Linked DNA regions of Homo sapiens. The protein of the gene in region 1 purifies or fractionates together with the protein of each later gene. This does not show direct contact. Each region holds a gene or a part of one and is shown in the gene's direction. Other genes may lie near its edges.

The links. The genes of interacting proteins can lie anywhere in the genome.
Region 2: the proteins of A1BG (region 1) and PSME4 purify together in Homo sapiens (affinity purification with mass spectrometry; 2 studies listed by BioGRID and IntAct, with this or other methods). This does not show direct contact.

What each region holds. Positions count from the first base shown.
Region 1 is NC_000019.10:58,346,892-58,350,640, reverse strand, and holds part of A1BG (alpha-1B-glycoprotein precursor), read left to right. Parts: coding exon 1-271; intron 272-3,000; coding exon 3,001-3,288; intron 3,289-3,611; coding exon 3,612-3,619; 3' UTR 3,620-3,749.
Region 2 is NC_000002.12:53,894,274-53,898,022, reverse strand, and holds part of PSME4 (proteasome activator complex subunit 4), read left to right. Parts: intron 1-23; coding exon 24-153; intron 154-1,137; coding exon 1,138-1,219; intron 1,220-2,286; coding exon 2,287-2,440; intron 2,441-2,946; coding exon 2,947-3,016; intron 3,017-3,749. UniProt on the Homo sapiens protein: Associated component of the proteasome that specifically recognizes acetylated histones and promotes ATP- and ubiquitin-independent degradation of core histones during spermatogenesis and DNA damage response.

The sequences.
Region 1 (3,749 bases):
GCGCCGGAGTTCTCCCCGGAGCCGGAGTCCGGCAGGGCCTTGCGGCTGCGGTGCCTGGCGCCCCTGGAGGGCGCGCGCTTCGCCCTGGTGCGCGAGGACAGGGGCGGGCGCCGCGTGCACCGTTTCCAGAGCCCCGCTGGGACCGAGGCGCTCTTCGAGCTGCACAACATTTCCGTGGCTGACTCCGCCAACTACAGCTGCGTCTACGTGGACCTGAAGCCGCCTTTCGGGGGCTCCGCGCCCAGCGAGCGCTTGGAGCTGCACGTGGACGGTGAGCTGGCGGGGCACCAGCGAGGGCGGGCGCGGGTTCAGTGCCCCTCGGGGCCTCCTGTCTTTCCCCTCTTTCCTTGGGCGTCCGACGGCGGCGCTCTGGGCCTTGGTTCAGCCCCCATCGCCTACCCCGGCGGGGAGCAGGCGATCGGTGGTCGAGGGTCTGGGGACGCCTGGAATTTCGGCTTATTTCCCACGGACGCAAGCCCGTAGGTCACGTGTAGCGTGGTGGTCGGCAGCAGGGAGGCTGGCCCCAGGTTTTCTTGTTCAGATCCCTGCAGCTCTGTGGCTGCCTTGTTTTATTACTGGCCATGTCAGTCGTCATACTGGACCCCCCGCCCCGGCCCCGGTCCCGCAGGCGCACGGCTGATGTGTCCTTCTCCCCATCCCCGCCGTCCCCAGCTCTGTTTGTCCCTCTGATTTCCTCATCGACGTCTCCAGGACTCAGAGCCCAGCAGAGCGTGAGGGCACAGGTCTGACCTCCAGATCTTGAGGTCGTACCCTTTGCTGGGAGCACCGTTTTCTCTTTTCTTTCACTTTCTTTCTTTTCTTTCCTGCCTTCCTTCCTCTTTCTTTCTTTCTCTTTCCTTCTTTCTTTCTTCCTTCCTTCTTTCTCTCTTTTCTTTCTTCTTTTTTCTTCTTTCTCTCTCTCTCATCTCTGCCCCCCAACCCCATCTCTCTCCTTCATTCCTCCCTTTTCTTCTCCTTTTTGTTTTTTTTTTGGATAACTTACTTTTATTCTTGCAGGCCGGAGTGCAGTGGTGCAGTCTCAGCTCACTGCAACTTTCGCCTTCTGGGTTCAGGCAGTTCTCCTGCCTCAGCCTCCTGAGTAGCTGGTATTAGAGGCGCATGCCACCATGCCCACCTAATTTTCGTATTTTTAGTAGAGACCGGGTTTTGCTATGTTGGCTGGGCTGGTCTTGACCTCCTGACCTTGTGATCTGCCCGCCTCTGCCTCCCAAAGTGCTGGGATTACACTTGTGAGTCACCATGCCCAGCCTATTCTTGCAGTGTTATAAGCCACCATCCACAATTGATGAAAAATGTTTAATCTTGGCCAGGCAAGGTGGCTCACGCCTGTAATCACAGCACTTTGGGAGGCCAAGGCGGGTGGATCACAAAATCAGGAGTTCAAGAGCAGCCTGGCCAACATGGAGAAACCCTGTCTCTACTAAAAATACAAAATTAGCCAGCTGTGGTGGCACATGCCTGTAATCCCAGCCACTTGGGAGGCTGAGGCAGGAGAATTGCTTTAACCCGGGAGGTGGAGTTTGCAGTGAGTCCAGGTCATGCCACTGCATTCCAGCCTGGGCAACAAGAGCAAAACTCCATCTCAAAAAAAAAAAAAATGTTTAATCTTTAAATTGTACATCTATATCCTATGACTCCAAATTTTATTTATCACTCTCCTTAAAGTCTGAAGAAAATGATTAATTTACTAAGCTCCAAAGACAACACAGTCCCACTGACATAACATTTAGTATGATGTCCTACTCTCCTGTTAGAATTAAGAACAGCCAGTATCAAACTGGCCTGAAATCTGATTGGGTTCCTGGGCTCAGAATAACTGTAGTAAATTTGTAAATCCACACTAAGACACAAAATTAAACTAGGATGTGTATATCTATCTTACAAGAAAACGTTTCACAGTAAAAATTAACATTATGATTTTACCAAATTTCAACATTATAGTTTGTTAATCCAATCAAGCTTTCAAAATTCCTGATTAGCTTACAATTAATTGCAAATAACTTCATGTAGTTTGGCTAGCATTTCAAAATGGATAGGGAATATAACTTTTAAAATGCGAAAGTATATTATACATATTGCACTTTTCTGCTAGGCTGGGCTAGTATCTTCCATGGCAAGATACTCAAACTATTGAATAAAATACACATTTAAATCAAGCACTTACATGTACTTCATTAATTTCCCTGAAATTATCAACAGCATTACCAAAATCTTCCAGGATTTTGTAACATTTGATTCCTTACAGTTTTGTTTTGTTTGTTTGTTTTTGAGACGGAGTGTCACTCTGTCACCCGGGCTGGAGTGCAGTGGCGCAATCTTGGCTCACTGAAACCTCTGCCTCCCAGGTTCAAGCAATTTTCCTGCCTCCACCTCCCGAGTAGCTGGGATTACAGGCGCACGCTGCCACGCCCGGCTAATTTTTTGTATTTTAGTAGAGACGGGGTTTCACCGTGTTACCCAGGCTGGTCTGGAACTCCTGAGCTCAGGCAATCCGCCTGCCTCGGCCTCTCAAAGTGCTGAGATTACAGGTGTGAGCCACTGCGCCCGGCACCTTAAATACACTTTTAAAGTTAAACTTATGGAGGGAAAACCCTCATCTATTGACATAGATTGTATGTCCTTTTTTGGTCCCTCCATGAAGGAGCACCGTTTTCTCCATCATTTCTTCTTCCCTTCACCCGTCAGAGTGACCGAGGCTGGGGACCCCAGAAGCCCCAGAGCAGGCCCGAATCTGGGACTTCCACGGTCCTGGGGGAGGGGTGCGGGGACACTCACGTGTGGCGCGGATGTCCGGGGTGTGAAGGCAGCGGGCGCAGCTCGGCGGCGCCGGAGGAGCCCTCTGCGCCCAGGAACAAGACAGGGAAGATGAAGCCGGGGCTGAGGCGCAGGCGCGGGCGCGGCCTGGGGTGTGGCCTGGGGTGTGGCCTGGGGCGTGGCCTGGGGCGTGGCCTGGCCCGACCACCCGCCCGCTCCGCCCAGGACCCCCTCCCAGGCCTCAGCTCCGGGCGACGTGGAGTGGGGCGGTCCTGGCGGGCCGAGATGCCGTCCTGCGCTGCGAGGGACCCATCCCCGACGTCACCTTCGAGCTGCTGCGCGAGGGCGAGACGAAGGCCGTGAAGACGGTCCGCACCCCCGGGGCCGCGGCGAACCTCGAGCTGATCTTCGTGGGGCCCCAGCACGCCGGCAACTACAGGTGCCGCTACCGCTCCTGGGTGCCCCACACCTTCGAATCGGAGCTCAGCGACCCTGTGGAGCTCCTGGTGGCAGGTGACGTTTCCCTGGGTCCCGGGTGCTGGTTCCGTCTGCTGATGTTTGCCTGGGCTGTGCCCACCTCCAGGAGGGCCTCTCCCGGCTCCTCCCTTGGGCACCCCTGGTTAGCGCTGGGTCTCCCCAGGGCTCGTGGGGGAATTGCGGGCGAGGAACCGCCCAGCAAAGGCCCTGCAGCTGGAGGCGCAGATGGGGGTCTCGGCTGGCAGCCGACCACGCGCTTCCTTCCGGGGGGGCGTCAGGGAGGTCGGCCTTGATTTCCGCGAGGAGGAGGGCATAGGATTTCCCCTCCTCCACCATTTCTCTTTTCTCCCGTTGTCTAGAAAGCTGATGCAGCCGCGGGCCCAGGGTGCTGTTGGTGTCCTCAGAAGTGCCGGGGATTCTGGACTGGCTCCCTCCCCTCCTGTTGCAGCACAAGGCCGGGGTCTCTGGGGGGCTGGAGAAGCCTCCCTCATTCCTCC
Region 2 (3,749 bases), on another chromosome or scaffold:
TTGTTATTTTTCCTCCTTTTAAGGCCCTGGAAATTTGAACATATAGGCATTGGGCTTCTGTCTCTACTGCTGAGAGATGACCGAGTGTTGCCTCTTCGTGCCATACGGTTTTTTGTTGAGAATCTCAACCATGATGCAATTGTAGTTCGAAAGGTACATACCTTGTTTTAGCTACAGTCTTGGGTTTGAGAATATGTACGTGACCTGAAGTCTTTAAATTCTTCACAAGCAATACACACTTGGTTAATAAATATCTTGAAGTGTATTGATTTGAAATCTCCCCCTGTTGATTCAGAGATGATAATGATTCATCTAACAAATGAACATGTTTAGGCACTCTGTTTAAAAGACTGGGGATATAGCAGGAAATAAGTTTATAGGCTAATGGGAAAGATTTAACAATTAGAAAATTAGGTGTGCAGTGTGTTTCAGGAGGGGCAAGAAACTCGAGGGTATAGCTTTTTACTCTCCAAGTGTTAGAGGTGAGGTGGGGGTTGGGGAGATGGCCTAAGCTGAAGCATTGGAGAAAGACCTTTAAAAATACCCTGAGGCTGGGCAGGGCTTGGTGGCTCATGCCTGTAATCCCAGCACTTTGGGAGGCTGAGGCAGGTGGATCACCTGAGGTCAGGAGTTCAAGACCAGCCTGACCAACATGGAGAAACCCTGTCTCTACTAGAAGTACAAAATTAGCTGGGCATGGTGGCACACGCCTGTAATCCCACCTACTTGGGAGGCTGAGGCAGTAGAATCGCTTGAACCCGGGAGGGGGAGGTTGCAGTGAGCTGAGATTGTGCCATTGCACTACAGCCTGGGCAACAAGAGTGAAAACTCTGTCAAAAAAAAAAAAAAAAAAAACCCTGAGGCTAAGATTTGAAGAATGAGCAGGTATTGGTTTAACAAAGAAGGGGTCAAAGTTTTCTAGGCAGAGAGACTAGCATGTGTCAAGACTGTAGAGTAAGAACTGCCTATGATTCATTCTAAGTCAGATTTAGCACTCACATGGATGTACTGCCAGATGTCGATAGGCGAGGTGTTTTTTTAAAGAAACAGAATCCTATTTCTGCTTTGAGTAAAGCAGACAACCAGTTAAGTGATTTAAACTTTTTTTTATGAATGTGTACCTTTTTCCTTTTCTAGATGGCTATCTCAGCTGTTGCTGGTATCCTTAAACAGCTAAAAAGAACCCACAAAAAGCTGACCATTAACCCCTGTGAAATCAGTGAGTACTACCAGAAGTAATTAATAGTGCTTTCCAATAAAACTCAGAAAATTTTCTTGACATGTATAAATTCTAGTTCTTGACCTCAAATATTGTTCTATGGATATTAACACAAAATATAAATAATATTATGAAGGAAACAGTTGACTTAGTAAAAGCTAGTGATAACTATTTACAAAAATAGATTGACTCTTTCTGCCTTCATATTTATCTCACCTACTAAGCAATTATACTAATTATTTTATCAACTGTATTTCAAAGACTTAAATTGCTGTTATTAATTTGTTAAATGTTTCTCTTTGGGTGGTGGGATTAGGGACAAGGTGAATTTTCTTCCTCATACCTTATTGTATTACCAGAATTTTTCAGAAGAAAAAACCATTTTTTTCTGGTCTCCAATCCAGGATTAAAACATTGCATTTAAATTGTATGGTATCTTTAGTTTCCTTTAATGCAATGTTTAATCCTGGATTGGATTATAGTCCAGAAGAAAATGTTTTAATTTTTTTCATATAAAGTACATTCAGTGGGACAACTGTCAAAATTTGAGTAAAGTCTGTTGATGAAATAATTTTACTGTATTAATGAAAGCTTTTTTGAGAATTGTATTTTGATTATTTGAGATGATGTCTACAGTTTATACTCATAGTTTAGATAAGTATGTGTGGAGAGAGAGAGAATATCAAAGTATGCATGGTAAAATGTCAAAATTTGGGTGTCTCAGTAAAAGATGTGGGAATTTTTTGAGCTCTGTAAGTCTGAAATTATTATTTCAAATCTAAATAGTTTAAACAAAATTAATCCTTTTAATTTTGGTAAAAGGAATGAAGTGTGTTTCATACTTGATCTCTCCCCCAAAATAACTGATTCAACACAATTTAGTAGATAATGCCATCTACTCTGTTTTGAAATGTGCCTCCAATTGCTCATATATATGTTATCTTAATGTTATTTTTGTAGTGTTGTTTTGTGAAGACAAAGTTATGCTGGTACTGTTGATTGAAATTTGGTAATAATTGTTGGGCGAATATTTTTAAATTCATCAAATGTGATTGTCTTTTCCTTAGGTGGATGCCCTAAACCCACCCAAATTATTGCTGGTGATAGGCCTGATAATCATTGGTTGCATTATGACAGCAAAACTATACCAAGAACTAAAAAAGAATGGGAGTCAAGTTGCTTTGTGGAAAAAACTCACTGGGGATACTACACCTGGCCAAAGTAAGTAACTTACTGTGCACCTTATCATTAAATGCCTTTGATATAACTGCTTTATCATATTTTGGTTTCTGGGGAGGTTCAGAGGCACTTGAAGGTTCTTTTATCTTTCCCCTTCCCTAGTCCTCTCTTTCTTTTGCTCCTGCCAATGCTATGCCTCATTCCTGCCTCTTTCCTTGTGCAAAAACCCTTAGCCTTTCTGAATCCCATGGTTATATGGCTAAGGAGGTTATTAATAGCTGCTCTAAATTATATTCCTACCTATTAATAATACATATGCCTAAACCAGCCCAGAGAAATACATATTTTTCTCTCCTTATTTACTCCATTTGTCATTAGGACACAGTGATCTGATAGATTTTTAAGGCCTAGACTGTTACTGCTGTACTCATCTCCCCAAACTTAGCATCTAGTTAGAGTTCATTAAAAGTGCCTTCTAATGCTTTCTATCCATGAAGCTCTAATATTTTTTTCTATGCGTATGATAAATATGAACTCTTACTATATAGGAATATGGTTGTTTATGCTGGTGTGGAAGAGCAGCCTAAGCTTGGCAGAAGCAGGGAGGATATGACAGAGGTAAGCATTCCATTTCACCATGGTTCAAATGCATCTTGTTTTGGGCCACTGATTTATCTCAACCTCACTTCAGTTCTTCTTCTTCTTTTTTTTCTTAATACAATTTGTGTTTTTCTGTATAGCACTGCATAAATATTGGTGACTATGTAATCCATTCTCCTCAACCCCTTCATACTAGTGCCAGTTGACATAGATGTTGATGTATCTAAGACTGAGTTACTACCCCATTCAGCCCTCCGTTGGCTACTGCTTTATGTAATTTGCTGCTCATTTCTTGTATCAGTTCTGATACAAGCGTTTTGAAGGAAAAGTTAATGACTGATTTTTAGTTTTCTATTGCATATAAATTATGGGATCTCCGTAAATGCATGTTGGTAGATTTCAGTTAAAACTCCTTAAACTTCATTTAATTTACTTCACTTTGAAAGTTGACTTGGCTGGGAGCCATGGCACATGCCTGTAATCCCAACACTTTGGAAGTCTGAGGCAGGTAGATCACTTGAGCCCAGGAGTTTGAGACCATCCTGAGCAACATGGCAAAACCTTGTCTCTACAAAAAATACAAAAATCAGCTGGGCGTAGTGGTGCACACCTGTAGTCCCAGCTACTTGGGAGGCTAAGGTGGGAAAATTACCCGACCCGAGGAAGGCAAGACTGCAATGAGCCATGATCGCACCACTGCACTCCAGCCTGGATGACAGAGTGAGACCCTGTCCCAAAAAAAGAAAAGAAA